Regions from separate parts of the Homo sapiens genome. Here all the other regions are reported to be linked to region 1. The links are microRNA targets in miRTarBase. Many come from high-throughput screens and were not tested one by one. Region 1 holds a microRNA gene; each other region holds the end of a gene's coding sequence. Distances are from middle to middle.
The links. Region 1 holds the annotated microRNA hsa-miR-3148 (UGGAAAAAACUGGUGUGUGCUU, at 2,898-2,919, shown strand). A microRNA usually pairs through its seed, bases 2 to 8, with sites in the 3' UTR of a target mRNA and lowers its output. Matches are read on the target gene's strand: a 7mer-m8 pairs with bases 2 to 8, a 7mer-A1 pairs with bases 2 to 7 and ends in A, and an 8mer does both.

Region 1 (5,474 bases):
TTTGGTTAGGGATATTGCTATTCCTTCAATCATGCCTTGGTGACATAGTCCAGATGCCTCAGCAACCTGGTGACTCTGGACAAAGTCTAGTTTGTCAGTTTCCTTATAAAACATGGAGCCCACATCTAGTTTTGACTTTCCAGCTGTGCTTTGACCAGTGCAGAGTGCATAGGGATACTTCTCTTCTTGCATCACTATTGACATACTATTTTTGAATCAATGAAGACCAAGAACAAGATAATTATTTTTCTAGGAACCAGTTATCACTTTTTGGCTCATTTTAAGCTGGGTGGTTGACCCTAGCTCTGTTTTATATAAGTTACTGTCTAGTCAAGTTTCTCCTAAGCTTACTTGATTAATTTTTCAAACCTAAATGTAAATCTTCACATTAACCCTGTTTCATTTCATTTTAGTAATTTTGGCCCAGAACTCTTGAGTGTCAGGATTAATTTTGAATCTTGACTCATCATTTATTCTTACAACTCTCTCTTCTAGTACTGCAATAATCGTAGAGGTAGTATGCAAGCCTCTAATTTCTCTGTTTTTCAACCAGGCTGTTTCTCTGTAAGGACAAGGAAGGGAAGCTGAGGAAGATTTATTTAGCAACTATAATTTGCCAAGTACTGTGTCAGGTGCTTTACACATATTTTGTTATTTAATCCTCATAGCAACTGTATGAGACTGTAACTTCTTTTGTAAAAGGAGAATGGAAGTTCTTATCTTACAGTTCTGGTGAAGAATAAATGAGATAATTTAAATTATGTACTTATTAAAGTGCTGGCACACAGTAGGCACTTGATAAATATAAATTGCAGTTATCTCTATCCCTCTTCCTTCATCTTCTCTTTGGACAGAATCGGGAGAAGGACAGAAAGATATGTGATATGGTTTGGCTCTTTGTCCCCACCCAAATCTTGTCTCGAATTGTAATTCCCATAATCCCCAGATGTTGAGGGAGGGACCTTGTGGGAGGTGATTGGATCATGGAAGCCGTCTCCCCCATGCTGTTTTCATGATAGTGAGTTCTCACGAGGTATAATGGTTTTATAAGTGTTTGACGGTTCCTCCTTCACATGCTCCCTCTCGCCTGTCACCATGTTAGATGTGCCTGCTTTCCCTCCTGCCACGATTATAAGTTTCCTGAGGTTTCCCCAGCCATGCAGAACTGTGAGTCAATTAAATCTCTTTTCTTTATAAATTACCCAGTCTTGGGCAGTTATTTATAGCAGTGTGAGAATGAACTAATACAATATCCCATTAAATGATCCATCTCTCAGCTGCCACGGAAACACCAGTCAGCTCCTACCAGCATGACAGACAGTTTCACATCATGAATTATTTATTGTGCATTACAAATTGCCCCCAAACTTAGCAGCTTCAAATAATACACATTTATTTGCTCACAGTTTCTGTGGGTCAGAATCCAGGCACAGCTTTGGGATCCCTCATAAGAAGGCAACAGAAGTGCTGACCAGGGCTGCATTCTGATCTGAAAACTCAACAGGGAAGGATCTTCTTTCAATCTCACTCATGTATTTATGGACCCAGGGCAGTTCCTGGATGGGTGTTGCATTGAGGGCTTCAGTTCCTTGCTGGTAGTCAGGTGGAGGTCACCCTCAGTTCCCCACCATGTGTACCTCTTCAACTTGCCTCATCAGAGCAAACATGGAGAGAGTGAGAGCGTGGATAAAGACAGAAGTCAGTTTTTTGTAACCTAATACCAGAAGTGACATCCCATTACTCTTGCTGGACTCAGTTCTTTAGAAGTGAGTCATTAGGTCAAGCTCACATACAAGAGGAGGGAGTTACACAAAGGAGTGGACACCAGGAGGGAGGGGTCATGAGGGCCCTGCCAGCAGCTTCCAACCACATGCAATTATCTTCTTCATCAGCTCACCCAATGTATTCATTACTGGCAGTTCTGGGATATAAATCCAGGTTTCTAGGCCCTTGCTCTTTCCCCAAGAGTCTACCCTGGGAGGAATACTGATTGTCAATTGTAGTTGAAATTGTAAGCTGATTATGTAGCCATTTCTACCTACATTTTCTACATTTTTTTCCCTTGGCTTTGTTTTTGGGGCAAGTGCAATTTAGTTGTGAACATATTGCAATGAGGGGACTTTCCTCACATTTACTTATCCTTTATCCCCTCTCTCTCATTCTCTCAAGTAGTGTTTCAACCTCTTCAAGGCTTCAAATCTTTAACATTCTCACTCTCAGCAAATAGCTTTGTTTCCAGCTGCATAGAGAAAGTAGACAATATCAGCTGTGAACACTTTCAACTCCTGTCTCCCATGCACATGCTTCTCTCCTACTTTTTGGTTTGAGAGGATGGGAAGTCATTTCTTCTGTTTGCTCCTTCTTTGTAAAATTTCCTTTCCTTTCCTTCATATCTTAATTAATCAATTATTCACAATGTTGAGTCCACTGAGGACCAGTAAGCAGCCTTCTGTCTTTTCCACCTCAGTGCTGCACAATTCAGGAAGTGAATCAAAGAATAAAGACAGAGGCCACAGCAATATTATGGATAGAGCTGAGTTGGAGGATGTGGCTTGGTGTCTCTGTCAAATGGACCTGAGATCTGAACCCCAGGACTGGTCAGTTCTCAGCAGTGCTGTATGGTAGCCTTTACAGGTCAAAATTACATCATGGAGGAGCAGAGGCAAATTTGTGCCTTCTGTGGGCAGGTTCACTTCTGATAGGGCAAAGGGAAGACTTGAGCCAAGATTGCCATTTTCTTCCTAAATTTGCCAATCAAATAAGATAGAGTAAGCAATGTTAATTGAAGTCTTCCCACAGGAAGGCAATGTGTGGAATGGAGAAGGCTGCTTCAGCAACATCCTCTCCCATGCACCTTAAACGTCTCTTTCTTTCTCAGCTCCTTTCTGGAGTTAAGATGGAAAAAACTGGTGTGTGCTTATTGATGTAGCCAACAAGCATACATCAGTTTTTTCCAACTTAACTCCAGTATTTTCCCCAATTCATCCTGAAATTGCTGCCCTATCCATTCTCCCTCCTACACAGCCAAGATTCTTAAAAAACCAATCCAAATTTGCAGAATCTCCTCACTCATTTCTAACACATTTCTCAAGGGTTTTGACTTCAAAACTCAAGTAGAGTTTTGACTTCTACTCTCACCAGTGCATAGCAGTTGCCTTGGCAGGGGCCCCCAGTGACTTCCTGCTCATCAAAGCCAATGGACCTCTGGTGGTTTTAAGTTGAACTAACTTCTCTTTAATATTTAACCCTCCTGTACACTTCATTCCTCCAGAAAGGATCACTTATTTCCAGGCTTCATCGTTGATTCCTCTTGCCATGTTCACTATCAATGCTTTCCAGGACTCCTCTCAAATTTGATTAGTTTTATTCTGTTTACTCTTGGGTGAATTTTTTTTTCTTTGAGCTTTAACTGTCACCTCTTGCTAGTCACTCCTGAATATTCAGCTGGAGTCCAGACCTTTGTCTTGAATTCTAGATCCACATGGTACATTGCACAATCTGGCAATGCCAACCTTTCCACTCTCATATTTTCTACCTGTCTCCCCTTTACACACCCTGACCTAGCTATACTTTCCTGCATTATTCTTTGATCATTCTAAGCTTATTCTTACCCCAGGGACTTTGCACTTACTGTTACTTCTGCCTGGAATGCTCTTCCCCTAGAGGTGTACAAAGCTCATTTCTTTCATGTCTCTGCTTAAGTATCACAGCTTCAGAGAGTTCTTCACTCACCACTCCCACCTCTGTTTACATTTTATCGTAGAATTTATCACTATTCAAGTGTGTGCGTGAAGTGGGTGTGGTGTGTGAGCACACATATATGTGCTGATCCTAAAATAATTAAGTTCCTCAAGGGCAAGAACTTTGAATTATTCACTGGCATATCCCTAGTACCTATAATATGGATGCTAATGACACTTGTTTAATGGGTAAATGTTTGCTTGAAATTTGTCTTTATGACTCATCGTCTCTCACTAACTCCTACAAAGTGGTTTGTTACTAACATCCCTGTTTATGAATTTAATCTCAAATTTCTCTATTTAGTTTTCTCCTAAGTAACAATTTCAACAATTGAGGCTGGAATTTTATTTTCTTATAAGATTAGCTCAGAAAGCTAAATAAAACGCTTTGGGTTTTCTCATCAGAAAAAAGAAAGCTCAGGTGCACCGAGACTGGCCCCACAGTGTTTGCAATCGCTGTCATGATTGGGTTTCTGCAAGCTGGCCCCATGGGACAACTTCATCTTTCCTTTTCTGCCTGACGTCTTGCAATTGGGATTCCCGCTAGTACTGCCCTAAATCCTGGCAAGAAGACCTCTTGCTTTGAGCCCTATGCTTTAGAGAGCTCCACTCTCATCCTTCTTTGTTCCTTTCCCTCCCCATTAAGCAAGAAGTCCTTGGGATAAGAGAATAAAACCATCTGGACCCCATATATCTTCCTTCTGGAACACATTCCTGATACATGAGACCTCAGAATTCTCTGCCCAAATGGTCACAATTAAACTTCCAAGGCTTGTGGCCCTCTTTCTGAGGTCTTTCCTCTCTAGAGTGAAGTATGCTGACTGTGTGTGCCCACTTGAGCCAAGTGATGGTCAAATCATTACTGTTTCAAGGACCACGGGTGAAGCTTTAACTTACGTTCTTGGTTGTACACTGGACTGCTTGTGGTAGGAACTGGAGGTGGGAAGAGACCATTTTTCAGTAGATTTCTGGAAGTCTAAGGATTCTGAATTTGGGTATATTTGTGGAAGTAGCAATGTTTTAACTAGTGATGCTAGCTTGATATATAACTCATACATTGGATGTATAATCTATGTGGGCCTCCATTTGTACTCTTGGCCAAGGCAATGCTGATATTAGGGGTGAGCCTGGTTCCACAACTGTCTTCATAGAACTGCTGCCTTAGACTTATGTCTGTGTGGATGCACTGATTCTAGATGAGGTGTTTGCACTTTTTTTTTTTTTTAAAAAGACCTGAGTTTTTACATAACCAAAATCTTACCTGGAAACCCAGCATATAAATATAGATATAAAATGAATATATAAATATAAAGATGTTAAATAAGTATATAAATATAGATGTAAAAGGACTCTGGCTAACCACAGGAATGAAAGGCTCAGGGCTCTGTTGGCTCAGGGACTCCCCACTTTCGTCTCCTCCCTCCCTTTCTTGAGTAGCCTTGAGGCACAGCCATGGAACTCCAGGACTTCACGGGCAGACACAGTTCAAAAATTAGGGCTTTGATCAGCTTCTCACATTGGCATTTAGTGCACTTATGTTCCATGGAATGTCCTTGGAATAGTGCTATTTAAACAAGCTTGGCAGAAGCAGGGCACTCTTAGACCCCATCAGCAATCTCCACGTCCCGCAAAGTGAAATTCCTGCAGAAGAGAGACTGGTTTACCTTGTATAACCCAGAGTTTCTCTAGCATATCTTACCATGCAATTCTCTGCTCACAGAAGTCCTTTTAATA
Region 2 (5,436 bases), not on the chromosome of region 1:
GGTTATTGTCTAATGTGATGTTCTCTTTTAAATCTAGTTTTATTGTCCATATGTTCTCTACTTTGTGATCCTAATCCAGATGACCCCTTAGTACCAGATATTGCACAAATCTATAAATCAGACAAAGAAAAGTAAGTGTTTACTTATTTTAGTTTCTGTATGGATACATTCCTATATAGTATGCCAAAACACGAATATTATCAATATGTTTTAAGTCAATTTGATTATGGTTGTTATATGTATATTGTTTATCTTTTTCCAATGGAGTAAACCTTTCTTTGAGAACTCTGTTAGACCTTTTATGATAAATCTTGTTCCTTCCCACTTACTGTTCAATAGTATATACTCTGTATTTGAAAAATAGATGTATATATTCTAGGTGATAAATTAAAAATGAAAGAATTTAATCATTGGAAAGTATTAAATATATATTGCTTATCTTCTCCAAGGAAGAGGAGTTCTCTCGTACCCATCCAAACTGACCTAATTCTCAAGCTGCTTCATCTTGCTAGTACTGTAGGTTCATTTGCAATTTGTAGATAATGCTCCTTCAGGATTGGCTTTTGTAAATTTCTGTTAGAAGCTGGTTTCTGCATTTTGATTTTTGTGTATTTGGATACATTTTCATATAGGTTGCAGAGAAATCCATGAGTTAAAAAATTATTTTTCCTGTTTTATTTCTGCATGAACCTAAGTCACATTGACCCAGTAATTGATATATGTGTGATTATTGCAATTAAGTATAAGAAGGTAGAATATATAGTTTTATTAGACAGATGCTTCTGAAATATTAATTTTGTATGTTTTTACTATATCCTTTTTGTGTATCTACAGATACAACAGACATGCAAGAGAATGGACTCAGAAATATGCAATGTAAAAATCAAAAACATTTTCATATATACCAGAGTACTGTAAAATCTAGGTTTTTTTCAACATTAGCAGTAAATTGAGCACTGTTTACTGTTTCATTGTACCATGAAACCATTTGATTTTTACCCATTTTAAATGTGTTTCTGAAGCAAGACAAAACAAACTTCCAAAAATACCCTTAAGACTGTGATGAGAGCATTTATCATTTTGTATGCATTGAGAAAGACATTTATTATGGTTTTTAAGATACTTGGACATCTGCATCTTCAGCTTACAAGATCTACAATGCAGCTGAAAAGCAACCAAATTATTTTTTGCTGAAACTAGATGTTTTTACATGAGAAATACTGTATGTGTTGTCTAAGATGTCAGTTTTATAAATCTGTATTCAGATTTCATTCTTTGTTAGCTCACTTTATAATTTGTATTTTTTTACTGTATAGACTAAATATATTCTATTTACATGTATGTCAACTCATTACTTTTTTCCTGTGAACAGTATTGAAAAACCCCAACGGCTGATAATTAAGTGAATTAACTGTGTCTCCCTTGTCTTAGGATATTCTGTAGATTGATTGCAGATTTCTTAAATCTGAAATGATCTTTACACTGTAATTCTCAGCATACTGATTATGGAGAAACACTTGTTTTGATTTTGTTATACTTGACTTAACTTTATTGCAATGTGAATTAATTGCACTGCTAAGTAGGAAGATGTGTAACTTTTATTTGTTGCTATTCACATTTGAATTTTTTCCTGTATAGGCAATATTATATTGACACCTTTTACAGATCTTACTGTAGCTTTTTCCATATAAATAAAATGCTTTTTCTACTATTTGTCTTGATTACTTAAAAAAATAAAAATATAAGTAAGGATCAAAACTCTAAAATTTTGCATGAAAATTACATCCAAATTGTGAAAATCAGATCTATTTTGTTTGCCATTAGTCACCATTAGTTATATAAATTTTATTGTTTTAGGTTAGTATCTCTTTACTAAATTGTCAGTCTATAAGATAATATATGTTGATCCCTTGCTGTAGAGGAGAATTTAGAGTAATTTGGGGTTTGTCTTGGATTATATCTAAATGGATTATTTGTTAAAAGTACTGAAATGAGTATAAGGCAGTATCACCCATCCAAAAGAAAGGTCTTTATAGACCTGCACAGTCACTAGATTAATTCATTAAAATGCCCCCACCCTGATGTAATTGACATTACATTTCTTAACATTTTAAAATCTAGAATTTCTAAAATGGAATTTAATGCCATCACAATTTGAAAAACTTTTTTTTTTTTTTTACTATAGAAGTTACAAAGGAAGTTCTAAAATTATGCCTCCCTCTGTTTTTATAAGTTGCCATCGAAAAGTGATTTAAATAAGCAGGTTATCTTTATAGATTTTAAAGAAAACTAGAAAGTTTTAATGTTTTAACTTGGGGAAAAATACATCTCTTTAATGTTTAGCATGCTTGTCAACCTTGAGTGAGTGTCATTTTTAAGAACAGTTGTAGCCCTTCTGATTATTGCAGTAGCTGTAGAAGTATGTAAGAATATGTGATGGGTGTAGTCATTAGCAAAGCATTTAAATCACTTGAGTATTTTGTCATGGTTCATTATTATTAAAGCACAAAATAACCTATTGTTAGAAAATATGTGTTTTTATAAATGAATGTAAAATAATTAAATGAATTGTGAAATGGATGTTTAAGAAAATATAGGCTTAAAAAGTAAATCTATAAAATGATGTCTTAAAACAGCCATATCATGAAAAATTCTACTTAGCTATATTATTATAAGCTACATTTGCCCTGAATTTGAACACTCAACATCACTAGATTTAAATATTTAGTATATTTTGATAGTAAAGGGTTTTGTTTCTTGAATATCTTCACTTTAAACAAAAAAAAAAAACAACTTTCATTTGTGTGGCATTTATTTTTGGAAGTGTCTTCTTTTTTTTCTTTATTAAAGTTTTTGAAACTTGCCTAACTTGTTTGCCTTTGCTTACATCTGGATTGTACTGGACTTGAGGAGTAAGCAGAAGTTCTCATAATTAGCTAAAAACCTTGAGTTCCATAGTGGCGTCATGATCGGTCAGAACACCATTTTGGGTATATTATTTTTGCTTAACTCTAACAAGGAGAACATCAGTTACCTTTTAAAACTGTAGAATAAAAGTCAGGGCCTTTTGTGGATTAAGCATTAATTTAAGGACTTCCTTGGAGTGAGAGAAATAGGTAGTCTTTTGGGGATTTAGGATCCCACTTCTTGAAGTTGCATAGTTGAAAACCATGTTCAAATTGGATTCTGAACGCTTATAACTGCCATATACAGCAGTTACCCACATCAGTGACATGGGTTGTAAGGGGCAGCCTCACCACCATCCTCCAACTATCTCAAAAGCGTACAATTCCTGAAGTACAAGCTTTACATATATGCCTCCGTCAACCTTATTTATTAATTTTTGCATTATTTCCCTGTTTCACCCCTTTTAAACGCTGATAGGGAAAATTAAAAATTATAAATGAACTGCATATCAAGGACAACTCTAAGAGTTAACGTTCAAAAGTTACTTTTCATAAGAAAAAAATAATACATTGCAGTTTTAAATTTTTCTTATTTATCACAGTGATCTATCTAATGATTCAGTCATTGATGTTTGTCAAGATCCTGCTCTCCCACAGTTCTGTATTTTTTAAATGGAGAGATTAAGGAAATTAATTTTCCTCCCAAATTAAAAGAAATTATTGGTCATGAAACTATATCATGTCTGTTTATTGGTAGTCATTTTGAACTGTACAAAAGCCCAGCCCAGTTGATAATGCTTTAAAATTTGAGCTCTGCAGTAGAATCATCAGTCCTGTTACTCTATCTTCTTAGGACCAGCCATGAAAAATGTGATCAGTGCTTTAGCCATGGCCATAAAAACAGAGCTTCATTGTATTCAGATTGTTGAAAGTACTGTTTATCTTTGTTTGTTTCAGTCTTTTAAGTGATTATTACTACAATAAAAAATCTGATTTTTAAAAAATTAGTTTTATCACTTTTCAGCTGTAAAGTAGGATTTTCACAATTTTTTTTTCTTTAAAGCAGAGGCTTAATCACAATTTAATAGCTGTAAAATGTAATGCAGATTATTTATGAAAGGTCTTATAATGCTTCTCTTTTATTCTGATGGTTGTGTTGCACAAATAGGGCAGCAGGTAGAGTCTCATCTAATTTCACTTACAAAAGTTCTTATAGGTAGATAACTAGTCATTTCTACTCTCTCTGTTTTTGAACTGAGTAATGTGTCTGTAAGCTCTTCTTAAACTGTGTAATTAATATGTTTTCCCTAGTTTTTTTCAGTAGTGGTGATAACTGAAAATTTGTAGACGGCTGATAGTGTCCTGGTGACAGCCTAATAGATGTTATATCCTTATTTGTATTTTGTTACATTTACAATTCTGCTCCCATTATCCTGTTATATAAGAATGTGGCTTTAAATTGTAAATGAACTGAACTAATAGGAAGAGAGAAAATTCACCTGAGAGTATTAGTATTGGGGGGCATTTTATGTAATAAGAAACATTTCTCTAAAAACTTGGTTAGCACTCTCTTAGGTCCTACTGTTGTCGAGGGAGAGATGTGCCTTTCTTCTCTCAGAGGAGGTTGCTTTTATTATACTGGCATATGCTGAAGGTCTGAACTCTGCTTTCCTCATATAATTTACTTGGCAGGAAAAACTGTTAAGATCTCTTGAGTGCAAAAGATCACCATGAATTGCATATGAAATATTTCAGTATAAACTCTTAATATACATATTGTGGGAACAGTTGTGATACCACTTGTGTTAGCACTTTTGGTACACTTGTTTTGGCAGTCCCACACATTCAACGTGTGGATAGAAGAATGCACAGGACCCAACATACCATCATACTCAACAGTTAAGATTTATTACAGCCACCTGGCAAGGATACACAGTGGGGGCAGTAAGGGGGAAAGACAGACCAGGCAGTCTGGAGGAATCCACGTGCAGGCTCCCTGTGCTCTCCCTGAAGGGGCCACAAGAGTGAAGCCTTCCTCTAGTAGTAGCATGGGCATAGTGTTTCTGCCCTAGGATGCTAGTGTGAAACGCAAAGTCCAGGGTTTTTATTGGGGGCTAATCACATAAGCATCCTTTGTTTTCCAAAATTCTAGTCTTCTAGAAGGAAAGCAGGTGTTCACCATAAATCACATTGTTTATTTAAGAAGTCTAGTCAGGCTAGCACAGCAAGCACATCTTATCACTCAGGGATGGTTTCAGAAGCCAGGTTTCTAGATGTCAGCCAAGGGCAAACCTTGTAAACAGGCCATTCTAAAGATCAGGCCTGTATAATTTGTTAAAAAAACTATTCTTTCCCTTTGAATGGCCTTAGTACCCTTGTTGGAAACCAACTGACCATAGAGGTTTATTTCTGGTCTCTCAGTTCCATTCCATCAATCAATATGCCTTATCCCAGTATGACACTGTTTTGCTTACTGTAACTTTGTAGTAGCTTTTGAAATGGGGAAGTGTGTGCCCTCCAACTCTGTTCT
Region 3 (5,474 bases), 620 kb from region 1:
CTAAAAATACAAAATTAGCCAGGTGTGGTGGTACATGCCTGTAATCCCAGCTATTCCAGAGGCTGAGGCAGGAAAATCACTTGAACCTGGGATGTGGAGGTTGTAGTGAGCCGAGATCGTGCCATTGCACTCCAGTCTGGGCAACAAGAGCAAAACTCCGTCTCAAAAAGACAAAAAACAAAAACAAAAAATCAGCCAGGCAGTAATGGCACGTGCCTATAATCCTAGCTACTCAGGAGGCTGAGGCAGGAGAATTGCTTGAGCCTGGGAGGCAGAGGTTGTGGTGAATCGAGATTGCGCCACTGCACTCCAGTTTGGGCGACAGAGTGAGACCCTACCTCAAAAAAAAATTAGTCTGGTGTGATGGTGTGCACTCATAATCCCAGCTACTCGGCAGGCTGAGGCAGGAGGATTGCTTGAGCCCAGGAGTTCAAGGTTGCCGTGAGCTACAATTGTGCCACTGCATTCCAGCCTGGGGGACACAGTGAGACCTTGTCTAAGAAAAAAAGAAAAGAAAAGAAGAAAAGGAAAGAGACACAGAGAGAAGGAAAGAGAAAGAAGAAAGAAAGAAAGAAAAGAAAAGGGCTCCATGAAGAAAAGAAAAAAAAAGAAAAGAAAAGAAGGTAAACAAATGGACTCCATCTCCACTGCGCTATTAAGTGGGCAAGATTATTAACTGACCCAGCGGTTCTTTCCTCCCCTTCCAAGTCATAACAGCAGAACAGTTTTCAAGGAAAGGTCTAACCAAGCCAGAAGTGGTTGAAAATGTATTTATTTTTTTCAAATGATCTTTTTCAAGCAATAAATAAAACCAGACATATTGACTTCTAAAAAACAAAACCAAACAAAAAAAAAATCCCCTAAACTATATACATCCTACAGGAATACAGGCATTATCAAATGTAGAAATGGTATCACTCTGAAAGATGGGGCTATTTACACAAGTTACAAGAATTGCGTTGCTGTCTTTAAGAAGTCTCCTCCTTGAATAACTCATAAACTCTAAGGGAGAGAGAGTACTGGTGGGGAAGCGGGGTTCAAAGAGGAGACATCCTCCATCTTTATTGATGGACAAGACAGTCTCAAGGAAAAACATCAATATCCAAACACCGTATTGAGTCCCTTAACAAGGCTCCACAGATCAGCTGGCTTTCAAAAAGCCTGGAAGGGTGCTCCACTCAGGAACTCCCAAGAGAAACCATCTTGTCCCTCAGCCAGGCTGGGACTGGCAGTGAGGCCATGCTGAGCCAGTGGCAAACCCGTGGCTGTGGTTTCCACAAGACAACCTGGCTCTGTGCTGTCACACCCAGCCTCCAACAGCGCCTTGACATCCAAAAAGCATGGCAGTTTCCCAAGCTCGGCTGCACAGGGAAAACACCCGGGGAGCTACGAAACACACTGATGCCTGAGTCCCCCACCTAGAATTGGTTGAACTGGTCTAGGAGAGCCTGGGTATCAGAACTGTATAAGTTCCCCAAGTAATTCCAATGCGGGACCATGGCTTTACTACTACAGGCTTGGTTGATGGCCAATTCCCAATCTCCAGCCTCTTCCTGTCATGTTGGAGTCAACTATCCTATGTCCCTCTCTCCATCTTCCCAAGATTTAAAAACCTTTCTCATGGCTTCCCAAATTGGAAAACTCTCTGGAATCCAGCGTGGATGAGCAACTGAACAAAATGGCTTTGGGAGGGAATGATGGGAGCTGGGGCCTACCAGTCACCTGCTCTTCAGCCTAATACTGCTCTGTGGGAAAACTTGGTCCATTTCCCCCAGGGCTCCTCAACACACACCCCTGGGTCAGACGTTCTGGGAGGGAATAGGCAGCATTCCTCACTCTACAGAACACCCAATGAGCATCCTGTCTTTCATGGCTAATACCAAAGTTGACAATCAATGAGGGTCAATGCTTTCCTGTCATTACAGAAACTTCCCATCACCAGAATCCCTTCATGGGAGGGATGGATGCCTGTTGAAACTCACTGACCTATTGGACTGACGCTGGGGTGGTATCTTCATCAGAGCTATTGTAAGTCATCCAAAAGGCTTCTGACGAAAGAACAATTTTTAAAAAGTCCCTCTTTTCAATCAAGCCAATGTCCTATTTTATTTCTAAAAGTTTTGGGACTCGTGCTGTTATCAAGTACAATGAAAATGGCTTTATAAATAGCTGTTTTGACATTGTGATAGAAGGCTTGAATTCGGAGGAAAGATGTCGCTGGAGCTAGTCCTGAGTTCCGACTGTCCCTGTGGTGGGAATCCAGTCTGGGAAAGCAGGACTGTTTTAGCAAACGTGTACTCGTTCTATAAAAATGGAATCTGTTCTGCAGGTTACCGTCCCTCCCCGCCCAAGCATCCCCTCTGTCCTGTCTCTCTGCTGCTGGGACCCAGGGCTTTTTCAGCTGCAGAACCCACTGGACTTCCAGGAATCAAGGAAAAAGTGGAAATGTCCAACTGTGTTGTCTCTAAATGGTTCCATTGTCTGGGAACTGAAACCCTCCATGCTTCACCCTGAACTGTTATTTCTAGAGGAAGCAGGGAGCCTCTGGCTCTTCTAAAAATTGCCAGTGGGAGCTCTGGCCTCACCCACAGGCGGAGCTTGGTGAAGTCAGGATGAATGATGCCGTCACAGGTTCATGGTTCATGGAAGGAAAGGTAACCAACCTTGTCCTGTCTAGGATGCCAGATGAGAAAGAGTATCCCAACGTGACGGTGACATTGAGGCTTGACGTTATTTATGGGTGAGCAAGAATGTTCATTAGATGTAGACTCTCAAAGGGCTAAAAAAAACCATGCTCTCACTTCTAGACAAGTTTGCAACAACCTCTAAGCTGGCACTCCATAACAAGACTGTTCCACAATACTACAAACAAAATAGCATGTAGCTTGTTCCCTCCTCCCTCCCCCCCAAACCCTCCCCACAGAAAACGTGTCTCCCTCCAAAGCCATTCTCCATTTAGAAAGGCCCAACTAAGGATTCAAAATGGCACCCACGTGCCGACGATAGATTCAAAATGGCGCCTGCGTGCCCATGACGCACGTCACGGGAGCCAGCGGCCAGCCCCCTCACCAGCAGTCAGCCCCAACCCCACCCTGGCGCTTTGATTTCCAGTTTGGGAAATTCATACCAATGGAATCCGATGTAAGCAATCCACCATCAGCTCACTGATGCTCTCTTGCCCTTCCACACTTCGAGAAGACCTGAAATGTGGTGTCCATTCCCCTCTTTATTCAAAAGAGGACCTTCAAAAATATTCACCTAACTAGGAATTTAAAGAACACAAGAAATTGTTGGTATATTTCACTTCAGGTAACTGCCCTAAAATTAAAACCTCCAATTTATGCAAAAAAAGAAAAGATGGTGCTTCAATTTACAAAAGGATTCATTTCAGGGTTATCTCTAGTTGTCTGGTTTCCCCAATGGCTGGCCTTGCCAAATGATTTGCTGTAGGAAAATTTGAACTGCACCCAATTTTCCAGGAGCACCTTAGTGTAATATGGCATATTGATCACAGACGATAGACAAGTCTTAGGCAGGTTTATGCAAAAAATGCTGCAACCACCCAGTGATCATCGGAGGGAAAAAAGCTTGACTTACTGTGGTCTAAAATTGCTTCGGTGGCCTACATGCCCATGAACCAGCTTCAAAAGCAATTCACATTGGTCATGATGACACACACCTGCAGTCCCAGCTACTCAGGAGGCCGAGGTGGGAGGATCTCTTGAGCCCAAGAGCTTGAGATGAGCCTTGGCAACATAGTGAGATGCTGTCTTTTTTTTTCTTTTCTTTTTTTTTAAAAAAGCAATTCAAACCTAATTCTTCCCTTTCTTCCTCCTCCCACCCAACCCGCCTGCTTCTCAAGATGAGCCTTGGCAACATAGTGAGATGCTGTCTTTTTCTTTTCTTTTTTTTTTAAAAAGCAATTCAAACCTAATTCTTCCCTTTCTTCCTCCTCCCACCCAACCCGCCTGCTTCTCAGTGGCAACAAACTCAAGTTGCTCATCATGCTACCTTGCACATATCTACAAGACACCATTTACTTCCTAACTGCCTTGACATCTGCATGCTACGGTGCTCAGCTGTTTGACATCAACATAAATATATTCTAAATCCACTGTAACTAGACTTTTTGTACTTTCATACTCTGAAGAAAGTCTTAATAAATACTTTATTATTAAGCATAATTATTCATCTGTTGGTGACTGAGAAATGAAAACCACACCTTCGAAGATTTCTTTTAAAAAATGAAATTCCTTTAACTACAACAACGACAACAAAGGGACAAGTACACAGAACCAGGCACTTCTGGGAAACTTGTCTTCTCATCCCTTTGCCCTCCCTTCCTCCCCCTTTAGTAAAGCTGGTTGGGCACATTTGCTAGGATCTGTGGGTTTCATCACTTCAAGCCTTACTGCTTAAAAAAATGAGGTAAGAAATTTCTATCGGAAAAGTGAAACTGACACATAAACCAAACCAAGGTCTTCCCTGGCTGCTGCGGCAGCCGTTATTGCTCTAAGTTGGAGTGTTCTGTTTGCTTTTATTATGTATTCGGAGTCCTTATTGCCATTCTGGCTGGCCTCGTCGTTGGCCAAGGAGAAATGATGGGGAAGGAGCTCGGTCGCCTGCTCCCAGCTGCTCAGTCCCAACTTTCTGCCCGCATGCGGCCCGTCCTACCCTTGCTGGGAGCCAGCTCTGGTTCTGGGGCCCCCAGGGCGGCTCTAACAGCTGGGAGAGGTGGTGATGGGGCTGTGCAGGTAGGGCAGGCTGCTGGGGGCCGAGTGCACGCCCACGGAGACCGGAAAGCTGAAGACGAACTGCGAGGTGGGGGTGGCGGGGGTCTTGCCCCGCTCCCGCAGGGGTCCCGAGGGGCTAGCAGCCTCCGCAGCACAGGACGTGGCCAGCACCTGGGACTCGAACTGCAGCAGCTGCCCCATGAAGCTGAAGTTGGGCGAGATGATGCTGCGGCGCTGCTTAACGAACTCGAAGGCCTCCTCCAGCCTCACCCGTTTCTTCATCATCAGGTAGGCCAGGCAGATGGTGGCCGACCGCGAGATGCCCGCCTGGCAGTGCACCAGCACGCGCCCACGGCAGTCCTTCACGGCATCTGGGGACAGGGTTCAATAGGTTAGTGCACGTTTCTGCAGACCCCAGCCCCGACCAGGGGCACCGGCCAGCCCCTGGGGTCGGGGGGCTCTGAAGGAAGGACTAGCCGTGCTAGACCAAGGACTGGAGAGGAAGAAAACCCATGTAGGCAGGTCTCTAGAATGCCCCCAATTCTGAGGTCTATTTTCCCGAATCACTATGCTGAAGCTGGTTAAATCCTATTATCTGTTCAAGGATTTCCCTTTGCAGAAACAAAACAGTGGGGTCCAGGGTGGTGGCTCACTCCTGTAATCCCAGCGCTTTGGGAGGCCAAGGAGGGTGGATAACTTGAGCTCAGGAGTTCAAGACTAGCCTGGGCAATATGATGAAAC
Region 4 (5,474 bases), not on the chromosome of region 1:
TCCTAGGCCCCTGAAAGTCATCCATGAGGTTTAGAATGAATTCCTTCCAAACTCCTGGTAATGCTGATATTTTTACCTCTGCCCATGAATCATGAATATTCTTAATGGCTGTATTAATCTGTTCCCACACTGCTATAAAGAAATGCCTAAGACTGGGTAATTTATGAAAAGAAATTGAATTGATTCCACAGTTCTACAGGCTGTACATGAAGCATGGCTGGGAGGCCTCAGGAAACTTACAATCATGGCAGAAGGCAAAGGAGAAGCAAGTACATCTTACCATGGTGGAGCAGGAGGAAGAGAGAGTGACGGGAGAGGTGCTACACACTTGCAAACAACCAGATCTTGTGAGAACTCTATTATGAGACAACACTAGGGGATGATACTAAACCATTAGAAACCACCCCAGTGATCCAGTTACTTCACACCACTCAGCACTCAGAATCATAATTCAACATGAGATTTGGGTGGGAACACAAAGCCAAACCATATCAATGGCATCTAAAATGGTGAATCTTTTCCAGAATGTTTTCTATTTACTTTGCCCAGATCCATCAAAAGAATCACTATCTATGGCAGCTATGCCCTTATAAAGTACATTTTTTAATAAGACTTAAAGGTTGAAATTACTCCTTGATCTATGGAGTGCAGAATATATGTTGTGTTAGCAGGCATGAAAACAACATTCAGCTCCTCCTAAATCTCCATCAGAGCTCTTAAGTGATGAGGTGTATTGTCAATGTACAGTAATATTTTGAAAAGGATTTTTTTTCTGAGCAGGTCTCAAAAGTGGGCTTAAAATAACAGCAAACCATGCTATAAACAGATGTGCTATCATCCATTGTTGTACCATTTATAGAATGCAGGCAGAGTAGATTTAGCATGATTTTTAAGGGCCCTAGGATCCAGGGAATGGTAAATGAGCACTGGCTTCAGCTTAACATCACCAGCTGCATTGGCCCCTAAAGAGTCAGCCTGTTCTTTGAAGCTTTAGCCAGGCATTGATGTATCCTCTCTAGCTATAAATTGCATCTTCTAATAGAAGGCTGTTTGTTTACACTAAAAATCTGTGGTTTAGTGTAGCCTCCTTTATCAATTATCTTAGCTAGGTCATCTGGAGAACTAGCTGCAACTTCTGCATCAGCACTTGCTGTTTCAATTTGCACTTTTCTATTACAGAGACGGCTTCTTTCCTTAAGCCGCATGAACCAAAACTGCTCACTTACTTTTCTTCTGCAGCTTCCTCACCTCTCAGCCTTCATGGAATTGAAAATTAGGATCTTGCTCTGGATTGGGCTTTGACTTAAGGGAATGTTGTGGCTGGTTTGATCTTCTAACCAGACTACTCAAACTTTCTCTATATCAGCAATACGGCTATTTCACTGTCTTAATCATTCATGTGTTCAATGGAGTAGCACTTTTAATTTTCTTCAAGAAAGAAAATTAAAATTTACATTTATTCTCAATTTGGCTGTTTGGCACCAGTAGCCTAGCTTTCAGCCTGCCTTGGCTTTTGACCTGCCTTACTCACTAAGCTGAATCACTTTGAACTTTTCATTTAAAATAAGAGATGTGTGAGTCTCTTCCTTTCATTTGAACACTCAGAGGCCATTGCAGGGTTATTAATTGGCCTAATTTCAATATTGTTTTGTCTCAGGGAATAGAAAGGATCAGAGAGAGAGAGAGAAAGAGAGAGAGAGATGAGGGAACAGCCAGTCGGTGGAGCAGTCAGAACTCACATATTTATCAATTAAGCCCACTGTCTTAAATGGGCATGGTTCATAGCACCTTAATTATGACAGTAACATTGAAGATCACTGATCACAGATCACCATAAGATACATAATAATGAAAACTTAAAATATTGCAAGGATTACCAAAATGTGACAAACAGATAAAGAGTGAGCACATGCTATTGGAAAAATGGTGCTGATACACTGACTCAATGCAGGGTTGCCACAAACTTATGATTTGTTTAAAAAAATTTTTTTTTAATTGTTTGCAAAGTACAATAAAACAAGGTGTGTCAGCATGTACAAAGGAGATTAGATCTTTGTTGTATGAACTGTAAATGTTTTCCCGTTTGTCATTTAAATTGTCTTGGTGGTGATTTTCCCTCCCTCCCTCCCTCCCTCCCGTCTTCCCTTCCTCCCTTCCTCCCTCCCTTCCTTCCTTTCCTCCCTCCCTCCCGTCTTCCCTTCCTCCCTTCCTCCCTCCCTCCCTTCCTTCCTTCCTTTCCTCCTTCCCTCCTTCAGGCTCTCTGCAGCCTTGTGCTCCTGTGCTCAAACAATTCTCTCACCTCAGTCTCCCAAATAGCTGAGACCAGAGACGTGTGCCACCACATCCAGCTAATTTTTTGTTTGGTTTTTTAAAAAATAAAAATGGGGTTTTGCCATGTTGTCCATGCTGGTCTCAAACTCCTGTGCTCAAGCAATCCACCCACCTTGGCCTCCCAAAGTGCTGGAATTACAGGCATGAGCCACTGTGCCTGGCCTGCCTTCCATGTAGTTTTTGATTTTTAGGAAATCAAAAATAATCATCTTTTCTCCTATGGCTTCTGGATTTTGGGTGATAGAAAGGCCTCACACTTCAAGATCATTATGGCAGACATGGAACTGCACCACTTAGATCCCCTTTCAAGAAAATACTCAGTTCCAAGCTGTGAAAATGTGGGTTGCTGACAGCCTTCCAACTCTTAATCTCCTTCAGGTTTTGCCTCAGCTTTCCAGCCAAGCCAAGCTCTTCTCCAGAAGACACTTAGCCAATAATTGAGTAAGGAAGGTGGTGGCACAGGGCCCAGGCACTTCTGTCTCACAAAGGGCTCTTTGCAGGAACTCTTTGCCTCAGAGTTCCACATGATACTGGCAAAGATTTGGTCAGGTCTGCAGTGCAATCTGATGACACCCCTTGCCCAATCCTGCCTTCTACCTGTTCCATTCAATAAACCTGTTGCATCCCTAACTCCATCTCAGCATCTGCTTCCCAGAGAATCTAGAAGGTGCAGGTATGATGAAATCCCTCCATGCTTCTTTCTCATATGTTTATGATTTTATTTTTAAGTTTAAATGTTTCATTTTGAGAGTTACCTGATACATGAGGTATAGAAAAAGCCTTATATTTTCCTAGATGGCTCCCCAACTGTCTTCACACCATTTGTTAGAAAAAAATGCTATCTTTACCCAGCAAATTAAGACCTACCTTTAACATATACTAAATTTCCAAATGATTTGTTTCCATATCTGAACTTGCTGTTTTGTCTGTCTATTCATGCCACAGTATTATACTGTTTCAGCTATTCAGGATATGTAGTCTAATCTGTGTAAAGAATAGAAGAATAGTGCTCCCTCACTACTCTCAAGTTTTACTAACAATCCTTCCTTTTTTGCATGATGTTTACAATCAGCTTATCTAGTTCCACAAAAATTTGTCTCCCAATAAACTCACAGAGAGCTGGGAAGAAGGTCACTAAGTAAATAAATATAGCAAATGTTTTTTGTGGATTTTTATTTTTTTAATTCTTTTATTAATAAATTTTCAGATCCAGACCTACAGAAAATATAGCAAATGTTAAAGCTCACAGGTGGATTTCTCTTAAAGTGTTACTAATAAATAATCCAGGGCTTATATTTAAAGCCAGTGGCCTATTTTCAATAACAGAACAGAGCTCTTTGAAACATATCATCTTCTATGTGAAAAGTATAACCAACTGATTCTCAACTTGCCTCTGCATTAAAATTGCCTATGAGGCCTCTCAAAAAAACAAAAATCCAATATCATGTGTACACATACAGTTTTTAAGATTCCCCTGGTTATTCTGATGAGCATCAACGGTGGTGAAAAGAATATTATCACTATTTTAAAGTTTTCAAAGGAAGATTAGTTCATTTTATTTAAAAAAGCTTATTAATGGCAATTACTTGGCTTTAAAAAAAAAAATGCAACCAGAAGGGCATAAGTACAAAAAGAAAAATGACACCAACTGAAATGGCAGTTTGAAAACAGAAAACTGAAAGGCAAATATTAGAAGAGATCGATAAACTGCTTCTTTCTAGAAAAAATTATTGTCTTTTTTATTTATCTCAAAGAAAGTGACAGACAGTAAATGGGAGGCAAGTTCACAATAGGAAAGAGGAAAGAGAAAGGTAGTACTCTGAATTTTTGCATTAAGTTTTATAATTAGCTTTTCTACTAAGCAAGTAGCACCACAAGCATTGCTTTAATAGATGCCTAAATAAACATGGTGCAAATAAACCAGAGACCCCTTCGATCTTTCCTATATTTAGGAAAAATCATGTACTATGAAGGAAATTCAGTCTATGGTTTGCATTTCTTACTGCCCAAAAGACCAACTGTAAATTCAGTTCTCAACTAACACCACTGTCAATTATTAGCTTAAAAAGAGAGAACATTGTTAAATAAATTTAATAATAAATCTAAACACACATGTACACATAATTCAGGGGGACAGAAATGTTTATTTTTCATTAATCTTTTGAATACAATCATCATAATTTTACAGGTTTAGTTTAGTTGCGAACTTCACTAATAACATTTCCAAGAGTTCACAATTTCAAGGCTAAGCTTCTGATTAAAGTATCATGGTTACAAATGTAATATAAATGGAGTTTTTAAAAAAGGCTAAAAGCACTCTAGCCTCTTAAAAAATATATATAAATGGAAAATGGCCAGGCATTAAACTTAGTAACATTAAGTACACTTTAGTACTACAGCAGTCAAAGAGATCTCCACTAGAGATCAGAAAGAAGCACCACTATTTTCTTCTATGACGTGTATGTGTTGGTCATGAGCATGCTAGTATGAATAAGGCAATGTGTTAAGCACTGGCATACAAATGCAGCTAAAGGTGCTGAAGGAAGGCAGTGGGGTGGTGCAGGCACACAGCAGGGAGCTCTTCCCCGTGACACGTTAGTCATCTTCTCCACAGAGCAGCAGAAGAGCTTTCTTATAGTCCCCAGATGTATCTCCCTGAAACCAAATGTATTCCATTAACCTCCATGACTCACAGAAGCCATAGAAAATTTTAAAACTAAATAACTGGCAACAAATTTTATTCATAAGACTCTTCTCCCAAGTGGGTAATCTCTGTGACTTTCACATCAGGAATGTTATGCAGGGAGTTTCCTACCAATGTAACCTCAGACACTCAGTATTCCCTCTGGTAACACAAAGAATCAGGCAACTTTAACAACTATAGTCAAATCAAGCCTTCTAGACAGAATAGTTTCTATCACTTGGTATATATCAGCTAACACGGGCAGTGCTGGGGCTGCAGGGCTGTCATGGCTCTCCCTCCGAGACAGAAGGGCAGAACATGCTTTGCATCTGCTTGTCTCACATGCAGACATGCATGATAAATTAATGTTTCAAGCTAAAAGTGCATGGGTAAACTCTCTAGTGTCCTTTGGGCCAGCCAAACCACAAACATGCTAAACTAAAAGCTTCTGCTCAATTGA
Region 5 (5,474 bases), not on the chromosome of region 1:
TTGAGACTACCCTGGCAATGCATACTTTTTAACTAACCTTTCCCCGGATGGAGTGACAACAGACCCTCTAAGGGGCTGAATGCCCTCTGGTATGTTTGGGAGCCAGAATTAGGCACCAGGTACATCAAAGGCACAAGTTCACTGTTGCCTTCAGGGCTCTAACTTACCAGGGATTCTGGCCTCAGTGGAGGACATTGTGATGGAAGGAGAAGGTAGATTGACCTGCAGAGTCGGTTAACGTGTGGCACAGCACTTGGGCCAGGACTAACGAGCTGTTTAAAATATTTACGGGAAGACAACTTGGGAGAGGTGATCTTTGCAGTGAGTCCCTAAGTGTCCTGGGTAAGAATAGACCTGGCCTCTTAAGGCACTCCTCTTAAGCAAAGGAGTACCATGGCCATGGTCAGTGGGATCCCACAAATGTTCTTAAATGGGTAAGGCTTTAAGTAGCCAGAGAGTACCCAGCCTACCATTGGCTTCTCCACATCCTAAAACCTGAGACTAATCATGGTCATGGGGACCTCCCTTTTCAGGAATTCTTTTGAGGAGGTGCAGGCTCTGTGGGCCCTAAGTTAACTGTTTCCTCCAAGGGGGTTGTTTATTTCATTTTTCAAAGTAGACAAGTAAATACAATGTTGTCACTTTTTAAAGATGTGATTCTTTTCCAAGTAAGCCAGAGAACCTGTCAAAAGTGCCTAGCTCAGAATATGCACCTGATAGTTTTGAGTAGAGGGTGTGAGGGGCTCCTGTACAGAGTCCCACTGTCATCCTCACCTTCTGAATCCTCTCCCTTCACCATCCTGGTTTGTATTTGTGTCTGAATCCTGGCCCAGTCATTCTGCATGTTCCCACTGTGGGCTGGATCATCTCACATGCCCTGTGGTGAGAATCCTGGGTGTGCAGTGGTATCGGACGTGGGTCCATTTTAGAGAACCTGGAAAGCCTATGCCCCTCCTGAGGAATGGGCAGCTGATGTTTCCCCTCTATTTGGCAGAGAACTCTCCTGGCCATGGGAAGTCGCCTGACCACAGAGGCCGGGTCAGCAGCTTGCTGCACAAGCCCGAGTTCCCTGATGGAGAGATGATGGAAGTCCTCATCTAACTGCCATCCCTGTGGAATTTCAGTACAGAACACTGACAAACAAGGAAAGCGGCAGAGAAAGAAGAAAGACCTAGAAGGTTGTAGATGGGAAATCAGGAATGATTTGAACTGATAAAGATTTCAGACTCATAAGAACACATTTTATAAATGTTAAACACAAAAACTACATGACTGAAGATAGAAGAGAATGCGATGGATTTTATTACACATGGTGGAAGAGAGAAGAGGCGTGTAGGTTTGCAAACAAAGTTAAGAAATAGGAAACTGAATTTTTCATTGTACAGAAAATGTATCTCTTGGGGAGGGCCTGTGTACCCCCATTCTCTGATTATAAACAGATAAACCCAAATGTGGATCATCCTTGGAATACCCCCATTCTCCTTGCCTCTTAGCATGTTTGATTTAAGAAAAGCCTCCAGGAAATCTTGAGAGCCTGTCTTGGCATAATGCAGTGTCACCTGTGCCAACCATGGGGTGTCCCGTGAGTGTGAGTGTGGCAGTGAGAAGAAGCATCGAGGGCGAGGGGAATATGAAAGTTGGTCTTCACCTAATTACCTGTTTGGTTTGGATTTTCAAGAGATGATTGGGCTTCTTAGCTTTTCTGAATTCTGCAGTATTTTCTAAACAGGATAGATTATGATCTCGGTCCCCATCCATCCTAACTTCTGAGTTCATCTCTGTCTCTGCTTTACAGTCTTTAATTTTTTGTTGTTCCTTCATTTTTTTCTTTTTAATAAGACATAGCAGAATTCCTTAGGTATGGGATTTATGAGACCAGTACCTGAACTGTCATCATTCCTACTGTGTTTGATAGTGACCAGTAGGACAAAGCCACGTGCCGACTTCCTGGCTGCTTCACCTTTGCATAGCTGGGTTGCAGCTGCGAACCTCATTCTGACTGTGAACTAAGCAAGCTTTGAGGAGGCAGGAGATTCCGTGGGTCCCTGTGACATATTGCATTAAGATCGTGGCACTTGCTTTTTTGTCTTTCACATCGGCTGTCTTGCAAGGAGCTTGACATTTCCAAATTCCATTGCTCTGTTTGGGGAAGACTTAGGACAGCACTCCAGGAAACAGATGACAATTTACAGACAGTTGTCTCAGTGGTTTCCAGAATCTCACCAGCCTCCCGTATAGCTTCTTGTATTGAGGCTCATGAGCGTATTCACACTCTTTCCTCCCCCGCGCACGCCTCTGCTTGCTCTCGATCAGCATCCAGACCTCCGTGGCACCAGGTTGCCTCTGTTGTGAACTTCTTTTGTAACCTACCAGGCCAGTTGTATATACAGTGTTGTCAGGTTTTTCCGGGTTTCAGTTTTGAGGCAGTTTATTCAAAGTGAGACAGAAGTGCCACGGAAAAGAGGCAGGAGTGTGTTAGGTGGTGGGTCCATTAGACCTCTGCTGTGACATTGCATATTCAGCTCTGCAGACACTGGCTTCCTTTACAAATCTAAGAGATGCTGGATTAGAAAAGAGGAGAAGCTCATCGGGCCATCAGAGAGATGCTCCTACAGGGTCCTGATGTTTTTGTACCTCCAGGTCAGCTGGATCGCTGTTTTCCCAGTTCCCTTTGCTCATGCTTACTTAGAGGAAGAAAGAAAGGGGGGTACCTCTTCCAAGTACCTTCTAAATGAAACACTCAAGAGAGTGCTACTCAGGAAACTTTGCTTGGATCCTAAAATGGACTGGTCTTGGGTGTGTAACCCCGGTGAAGTTATAGCCTCCCCAAATTGAGGTGACAGAAGGAAGACAAGAGGTGTAAGCTGGAGAGGGAAGGGAAGAAATCAGTGGCTTTGGCCAGCCTCTGTGCCACCCAGTACGACAGAGGAGTGGGAACTGGCCCTCTGGGGCTCTGCTTGGCCATAGGCACTGCACATTGTGCCACCTGCTCATCACCTCCTCTAGTCTCACACTGAGCATCGGAGTACCTGTTGTGCAGACAGGAAAACTGAGGAGCTCTGAGAGGCTGAGCATGGAGCTCACCCCATGCCATAGGGTGTGGGAAGAGGGCACAGGAGGCCTCATCCATGGGGGAAAGGGTTGAGGATGGACATGGGTGGGGAGAGGGCATAGACATCCCTTCCTAATCTCTGTTCCCACCACATTTCATAGGAGATGAGTTAGGAGATGACAGCTAACTCTCTTAAGGACATTTTGACCCCAGTTTATGTTGGGGATGGACCAGAAAGGAAAATGTCTAGAGATAGGAAGGTAAATCAACTCTGCCAGCCCCTACCATCAGGTCTGGGCCACCCCAAACTTGGGCTGCCTCCCTTAGACATAGGTTAGAGTGAGAGACCCAGCTGTTTCTCCCGAAGCCTCGTCTTCATGCCCCAGACACCTGATTGCCCCAATCAGGTGTCAGACTTGCTTGCTCTTCGAGGTCCCCCTGAGCTGCCAAGTGTTTTCATTGTAAACAGACACATCGCCATGTTTCAGGGCTTCAACGGCATTGTATTTTGGACTTTGACCGTATTTTTTTTCTCTTAACCTACTGAGACTCTTCCTTAAGAACAGGATCTATAGCTTTAAAATGTCTTCTTCTATGGGAAATTTCCTGCCAAGCCAGGGCACTAAATTCTTTCATCATTAGAGCTTTCCTGAAGTCCGGCCATATACTGAGTACCTGCTCTGAGTTCTGGGCAGCTTACAATATCTTAAACAGATTTTCAGAAAAATAATGCAACTATATTTTCTAGTGTCAACTGTATGCAAACAGTGTGGTAAATACCTTTTAATTAGTCCTCCACCCACCTGGAGTACAGGGGGTGCGTTTATTATTCTGATTTCACTGATGAGGAAATGGGCTCAGAAAGGTTAAGTCCCTTCCTGAAATCTCACAGCCAGGAGAAGCTAGGATGATTTAAAACAAAGTTTGGAGAGGCACTGGGCATAGACCCTGGCTGTACAGCCTCTAACATGCGGCACTGCATCTTGGCAGTCTCTATGCCTGTCTGTGATGTGTGTGTGCACGTGTAACTACACACACACACACACACACACACACACACACACACAGCTATCACACATCTCAGAGCCTAAGAAATAGGACTAAGCCCAGAACTCCTAGAATCACCTATAAATGCTAGGCATAGATGGAAATTATTGTGTTCCACCAGAAGCACAGCTCCAAACTATACCTAAAAAATATTTCTGCACTTCCCAGAGACCTGGACTTCAAACTTTCCCAGTGGAGCCTGATTATAGAACTTGAGGGTCCTATCTCAGGATGAAGGGGAGAGGCCCTGGCTTCACGGGAAGGTATTCCAGCATTGTTCTGCTTCACCCTTGACTGCGTTGTCTGGCAGTTTCTGTGTGCTGCCAGGATATTATATGGAACTGGAGAAGTTGGAGTCAGGTCTCTGAAGCTAGAGTTTCACTAATTAGATGCCTCTGTACATGAGAACTATTACTGTCTGCAGGTCCATATAGCTAAGCTGCCAGGAAAAACACATTATCTTCCAAAACTTTCAGAGCATGTGCAGAACCCTTTCTTAGCGTTTTCTTCTCAGCATTTTCTCTGCCTCCCAGAGGCTGGCAGCCAGTGACACTGCAGAGTTCAGCATGTTCTAACCATGCACGCAGGGCAGGGGCTGCCTTGGCCCTCCTCAGGCTTTCGTTGGGAGAGCAGGCAGTGGTGGAGCCCTTCTGGGTGCAGTCCTCTGGGGTTGCTCTTTGGAACTCATGTATGAGTTTGACTCCACAAGGCTTGGCATGGATACCAAAACAGTTGCAACAAATTAGTTCTGAACCTGGAACAGAGAATTCAGTGCTTCTGTTACTCAGGAAGGAGGTGTTCAGAATGCCCCGTGCAGAGCAGCCAGTCATTACTCTTGTTTGTTCTCACCTGGGTGCGCACCCTCATGATGCAGTGGCTGTAGCACCTTCATGCCAGGTGCTGAGAGAATGGGAAATTCTTCCTCCCCATTGACCTGAGTCCCAGAGACTTAGGGACACAGACTTCAGGTGAGGCTGCGGACCTCAGAAGCAGTGGATAATAGATTGGGGCATTAAAAGCTTTTGAGGCAGGGGGCTCATGTTTTGACTGCAGGGAGTTATGCTGAGCAAAGAGATGTGTTTTTCAAAACCAGGGTTCAAAACCAGTGTCCACGCTGGAGTAAGTGGAGCATGCTTCTCTGTGTTCTCTGAATGATCTTGCACTCCTCTTAAGCAAAGGAGTACCATGACCATAGTCAGTGGGATCCCACAAATGTTCTTAAATGGGTAAGGCTTTAAGTAGCCAGAGAGTATCCAGCCTACCATTGGCTTCTCCACATCCTAAAACCTGAGACAGCCTTGGTATATGCTTTATAAATGTTTCTTTTCTTGTTGTTTAAGTAATTAAAGTGTTTAAAATGTCTTCATTAGATGTG
Region 6 (5,474 bases), not on the chromosome of region 1:
CAGATTCCTGATTGTCACCTGAACAAGAAAAGTCAAACTGGAGTGAAACCATGCAAATGCAGCGTGTGTGGGAAAGTCTTCCTCCGTCATTCATTCCTGGACAGGCACATGAGAGCTCATGCTGGACACAAACGATCTGAGTGTGGTGGGGAATGGAGAGAGACGCCCCGTAAACAGAAACAACATGGGAAAGCCTCCATTTCCCCCAGTAGTGGTGCACGGCGCACAGTAACACCAACTCGAAAGAGACCTTATGAATGCAAGGTGTGCGGGAAAGCCTTTAATTCTCCCAATTTATTTCAAATCCATCAAAGAACTCACACTGGAAAGAGGTCCTATAAATGTAGGGAAATAGTGAGAGCCTTCACAGTTTCCAGTTTCTTTCGAAAACATGGAAAAATGCATACTGGAGAAAAACGCTATGAATGTAAATACTGTGGAAAACCTATCGATTATCCCAGTTTATTTCAAATTCATGTTAGAACTCACACTGGAGAAAAACCTTACAAATGTAAACAATGTGGTAAAGCCTTCATTTCCGCAGGTTACCTTCGGACACATGAAATCAGATCTCACGCGCTGGAGAAATCCCACCAATGTCAGGAATGTGGGAAAAAACTCAGTTGTTCCAGTTCCCTTCACAGACATGAAAGAACTCATAGTGGAGGAAAACTCTACGAATGTCAAAAATGTGCCAAAGTCTTTAGATGTCCCACGTCCCTTCAAGCACATGAAAGAGCTCACACTGGAGAAAGACCTTATGAATGTAATAAATGTGGTAAAACCTTCAATTATCCCAGTTGTTTTCGAAGACATAAAAAAACTCATAGTGGAGAAAAGCCATATGAATGTACAAGGTGTGGTAAAGCCTTTGGGTGGTGCAGTTCCCTCCGAAGACATGAAATGACTCACACTGGAGAAAAACCCTTTGATTGTAAACAGTGTGGTAAAGTCTTTACTTTTTCAAATTACCTTAGACTTCATGAAAGAACTCATTTGGCCGGGCGTAGCCAGTGCTTTGGCAGGAGGCAGGGGGATCACCTGAGCCCAGGAGTTTGAGACCAGCCTGGGCAACATAAGAAGGCCCCATATCGGCTGGGTACGGTGGCTCACGCTTGTAATCCCAGCACTTTGGGAGGCTGAGGCGGGTGGATCACCTGAGGTCAGGAGTTCAAGACTAGCCTGGCCAACATGGTGAAACCCCGTCTCTACTAAAAATACAAAAAAATTAACTGGGCATGGTGGTGGGCACCTGTAATCTCAGCTACTCGGGAGGCCGAGGCAGGAGAATCGCTTGAACCTGGGAGGTGGAGGTTGCAGTGAGCCGAGATCACGCCATTGCACTCCAGCCTGGGCGACAAAAGTGAGACTCCATCACACACACACACAAAAAAGCCCCATATCACGTGGTGGCTCATGCCTGTAAAACCAGCACTTTGGGAAGCCGAGGTGGGTGGATCACGAGGTCCAGAGATGGAGACTATCTTGGCCAACATGGTGAAACCCCGTCTCTACTAAAAATACAAAAATTAGCCAGGCGTGGTGGTGTGTGCCTGTAGTCCCAGCTACTCGGGAGGCTGAGGCAGGAGAATTGCTTGAACCAGGGACTTGGAGGTTGCAGTGAGCCGAGATCGCGCCGCTGCACTCCAGCCTGGTGACAGAGCGAGACTTCGTCTCAAAACAAACAAAAAAAAGAAGGCCCCATATCTCCAAAGAAAAAAAAAATTAACTGGGTGAGGTGGTGCATCCCTGTAGTTCTAGCTGCTCAGAAAGCTGAGGTGGGAGGAACCCTTGAGCCTGGGAGGTTGAGGCTGCAGTGAGCTGAGATCGTGCCACTACACTCCAGCCTGGATGACGGTGACACTCTGTCTCAGAAAAAAAGGGAAAGAAATAATTCTCATTTATACAGGAGAGAAATCCTATGAATGTAAGGAATATGGGAATACATTCAGTTTCCAAAGATATGAAAAGACTAACTGGAAAAAAATCCAAAGACCTCAGATATTCCAGTTCTATTCAGAGCCATAAAAGGACTCATACTGGAGAAAAATTGTAGAAATGTACAGAATATGGGGAAACTCTCATTGCTCTCATCTCCATTCAAAGACACGTGTCAGTGCACACTGGAGATGGATGGTATGAATCGAAGAATACACACTGGATGGAAACGTTAGTAGTTTGGAAAATACAGGAAACTTCCATTTTAACAATAATTAAAATTCACATGGGCTGTGCACAGTGGCTCTCCCCTGTAATCCCAGCATTTTGGGAGGCTGGGGTGGGTAGATTGCTTGAGGCCAGGTATTCAAGACCAGCCTGGCAACCTGGAGAAATCCCATGTATACAAAAAATAGAAAAGTTAGCCAGGGATGATGGTGTTCGCCTGTAGTCCCAGCTACTCAGGAAGCTGAGGTGGGAGGATTGCTTGAGTTTGGGAGGTCGAGGTTGCAGTGAGTGGAGATTGCGCCACTGGACTCCAGCCTGGGCAACAGTGAGACCCTGTCTAAAAAAATTAATCATGTGAGAACATCCACTCGAAAGAAATCCTATAAACGTAAGTAATTTTGAAAGCCTGATGCAAATTAATTATTATATAATGCTCAAAAACTTAATCATGAATGAGTTATTACACAAAGTTATAAATATATAGCATTTATCAGTGGCTCATTCTTTTTTCTTTCTTTTTTTTTTTTTTTTTTGAGATGGAGTTTTGCCCTGTCGCCCAGGCTGGAGTGCAGTGGCACAATCTCGGCTCACTGCAACCTCCGCCTCCTGGGTGTGAGCAATTTTCCTGCCTCAGCCTCCTGAGTAACTGGGATTATAAGCACATGCCACCACGCCTGGCTAATTTTTTTGTATTTTTAGTAGAGACGGGGCTTCACCATGTGGTTCAGGCTGGTCTCAGACTCCTGACCTTGTGATCCGCCCTCCTTGGCCTCCCAAAGTGCTGAGATTACAGGTGTGAGCCACCGCGCCTGGCCTTTTTTTTTTTTCCCGAGACACAGTCTCACTCTGTTGCCCAGGCTAGAGTGCAGTGGCGCGATCTTGACTCACTGTAACCTCTGACTTCTGGGTTCAAGCAATTCTCCTGCTTCAGTCTCCGAAGCATCTGGGATTACAGGCGCACGCCACCATGCCCAGCTAAATTTTTGGTATTTTTGTAGAAACAGGGTTTTTCCACATTGGCCAGGCTGGTCTTGAACTCCTGACCTCAAGGAATCCATCCTCTTCAGCCTCGCAAAGTGCTGAGATTATAGGCATGAGACACCTTGCCCGGCCCCTGTGACTCATTCTTAAAAAGGATCTTTGGATTATGGGTTTCCACTTTTGCAAGGAAATGTGAGAATGATACTCTTTAAGCAGTGGTACCTGAGGTTTAATAGGAAGTGTTTTTATCCTAAGTTAGTTAATAAAATTTTTTTCTATCCATTTTGGTTTTCATTTTTTTCTATCCATTTTAAAGTGTTGGATCTGTGGGTGAAGTGAAATTTATTTCTAATATGTAAGCAGGTTTAATTTTTATGTAGTGTTTAATTGTTCTGTGATGAATGGGCCATTACAAAATGAGTCTATTTTTGTTTGTTTTCTTTTGTTTTTGAGACTGAGTCTTGCTCTGTCGCCAGGCTGAAGTGTAGTGGCGCGATCTTGGCTCACTGCAACCTCCACCTCCCGGGTTCAAGTAATCCCCCTGCCTTAGCCTCCTACAGGCGCGTGCCGACATGCCTGGCTAATTTTTTGTATTTTAGTAGAGACGGGGTTTCATTGTACTGGCCAGGATGGTCTTGATTTCCTGACCTTGTGATCCACCCCACCTTGGCCTCCCAAAGTGCTGAGATTACAGGAGTGAGCCACTGCGACCGGCCCATGAGTCTTTATTAATAGAGATTTCTTACTGGTGTTATGTGGCAGATTCTGCATATTCCTCACCCATCATATGTATTCCACTTTCCTTTATTATGGGGAAAACTACTCTTTTTGGCATGATACAATGTTGACTCCATTTTCTTTGCTAATAAGGACTTGGTATCAATTTATCAGTATGTAAAGTTTACCATAGAGTATTGTCTCATGTGAATCATTCCCATTTTTTGCTCTTTACTCTTTGTCGTTATTTCTGAGTATTATTTGGATGGTTCATTTTGACTTAAGGATAGCCCTGTGATATGACAATATTTTTATCTAATCTGATGGAGAAAGCATTTAGTCTCCTGATCAAGTATGATGTTAGCTGCAGGTTTTTAATAAATGCCTTAATTCAGTTTGAAGAAGTTCCCTTCTGTTCATTATTTATTGAGTGTTTCATCAAGTTGTATTGAACTTTTTTGCATCTATTGGGATGATCCCCTTTTTTTTTTTTTGGAAACAAAGTTTCACACTTCTTGCCCAGGCTGGAGTGCAGTGGCACAATCTTGGCTCACTGCAACCTCCGCCTCCCAGGTTCAAGTGATTCTCCTGCCTCAGCCTCCCAAGTAGCTGGGATTACAGGTGCCCTCCACCACGACTGGCTAATTTTTTGTATTTTTAGTACAGGTCAGGTTTCACCATGTTGGCCAGGCTGGTCTCGAACTCCTGACCTCAGGTGATCTGCCCGCCTCAGCCTCCCAAAGATCCTGTGGTGTTTAGTCAGTTTTGCATTGCTGTAAAGCAATGCCTGACACTGGGTAATTTGTAAAGTAGAGATTTCATTGGCTCACGATTCTGCAGGTTATAGAGGAAGCATGGTATCACATCTGCTGGGTTTCTGGTGAGGCCTCAGAGCTCTTACTCTTGGCAGAAGGTGAAGTGGGAGTAGGTATGTCACAAGGCAAGAGTAGGAGCAAGGGAGAGAGAGGGGGAGGTCTCAGACTCTCTTGAGTGAGCATTCACTCATCCCTAAGGGATGGTGCTAGGCCATTCATGACGGATCAGCCCCAATGGTATGATACTTCCCACTAGGCCCAACAGCCAACACTGGGGATCACATTTCTTTTTTTTTTTTTTTTTTTTTTTTTTTTTGAGATGGAGGTTTGCTCTGTCGCCGATGCTGGAGTACAATGGCGCGATCTTGGCTCACTGCAACCTCCACCTCCTGGGTTCAAGTGAGTCTCCTGTCTCAGCCTCCCAAGTAGCTGGGATTACAGGCACACCACTACGCCCAGCTAATTTTTGTATTTTTAGTAGAGATAGGTTTTCACCATGTTGGTCAGCCTGGTCTCGATCTCCTGACCTCGTGATCCGCCCGCCTTGGCCTTCCAAAGTGTTGGGATTACAGGTGTGAGCCACTGTGCCCAGCCTGGGGACCACATTTCAACAAGAGATTTGGAGAGGACACATCTAAGTCATATAATTCCACCCCTATCCCTCCAAATCTCATATTCTCATATTGCAGAATACAATAATCCCTTCTCAATAGTCACCCAGAGTCTTAACTCATTCCAGCATTAACTCAAAAGTCAAAAGTCTCACATGAGACTCATGAAATGAAATGTCCATAT

Region 2: miRTarBase lists UBE2D1 as a target of hsa-miR-3148. Seed matches in the 3' UTR shown: 7mer-m8 at 1,357-1,363, 7mer-m8 at 1,625-1,631 and 8mer at 1,679-1,686.
Region 3: the mRNA of DUSP4 is a reported target of hsa-miR-3148. Seed matches in the 3' UTR shown: 7mer-m8 at 3,579-3,585, 7mer-m8 at 2,433-2,439, 7mer-A1 at 1,635-1,641 and 7mer-m8 at 1,087-1,093.
Region 4: the mRNA of ANXA5 is a reported target of hsa-miR-3148. Seed matches in the 3' UTR shown: 7mer-A1 at 4,676-4,682.
Region 5: miRTarBase lists AMOTL1 as a target of hsa-miR-3148. Seed matches in the 3' UTR shown: 7mer-m8 at 2,401-2,407.
Region 6: miRTarBase lists ZNF101 as a target of hsa-miR-3148. Seed matches in the 3' UTR shown: 7mer-m8 at 2,989-2,995 and 8mer at 3,173-3,180.

What each region holds. Positions count from the first base shown.
Region 1 is chr8:29,954,763-29,960,236 of GRCh38, reverse strand. MIR3148 (microRNA 3148) reads left to right here and starts at 2,889; the gene lies at 2,889-2,965.
Region 2 is chr10:58,367,886-58,373,321 of GRCh38, forward strand. UBE2D1 (ubiquitin conjugating enzyme E2 D1) reads left to right here. Exons shown (of 7, transcript NM_003338.5): 6 at 38-131; 7 at 835-2,863. The coding sequence ends at 880. Among named protein-coding and RNA genes, the nearest start is that of TFAM, 15 kb to the right of the region's middle.
Region 3 is chr8:29,332,308-29,337,781 of GRCh38, forward strand. It overlaps DUSP4 (dual specificity phosphatase 4), which reads right to left. Exons shown (of 4, transcript NM_001394.7): 4 at 757-5,104. The coding sequence ends at 4,719. Among named protein-coding and RNA genes, the nearest start is that of DUSP4, 16 kb to the right of the region's middle.
Region 4 is chr4:121,663,542-121,669,015 of GRCh38, forward strand. It overlaps ANXA5 (annexin A5), which reads right to left. Exons shown (of 13, transcript NM_001154.4): 13 at 4,405-4,986. The coding sequence ends at 4,927. Among named protein-coding and RNA genes, the nearest start is that of ANXA5, 31 kb to the right of the region's middle.
Region 5 is chr11:94,869,695-94,875,168 of GRCh38, forward strand. AMOTL1 (angiomotin like 1) reads left to right here. Exons shown (of 13, transcript NM_130847.3): 13 at 995-5,474. The coding sequence ends at 1,101. Among named protein-coding and RNA genes, the nearest start is that of CWC15, 100 kb to the right of the region's middle.
Region 6 is chr19:19,679,242-19,684,715 of GRCh38, forward strand. It overlaps ZNF101 (zinc finger protein 101), which reads left to right. Exons shown (of 4, transcript NM_033204.4): 4 at 1-4,265. The coding sequence ends at 1,059. Among named protein-coding and RNA genes, the nearest start is that of ZNF101, 13 kb to the left of the region's middle.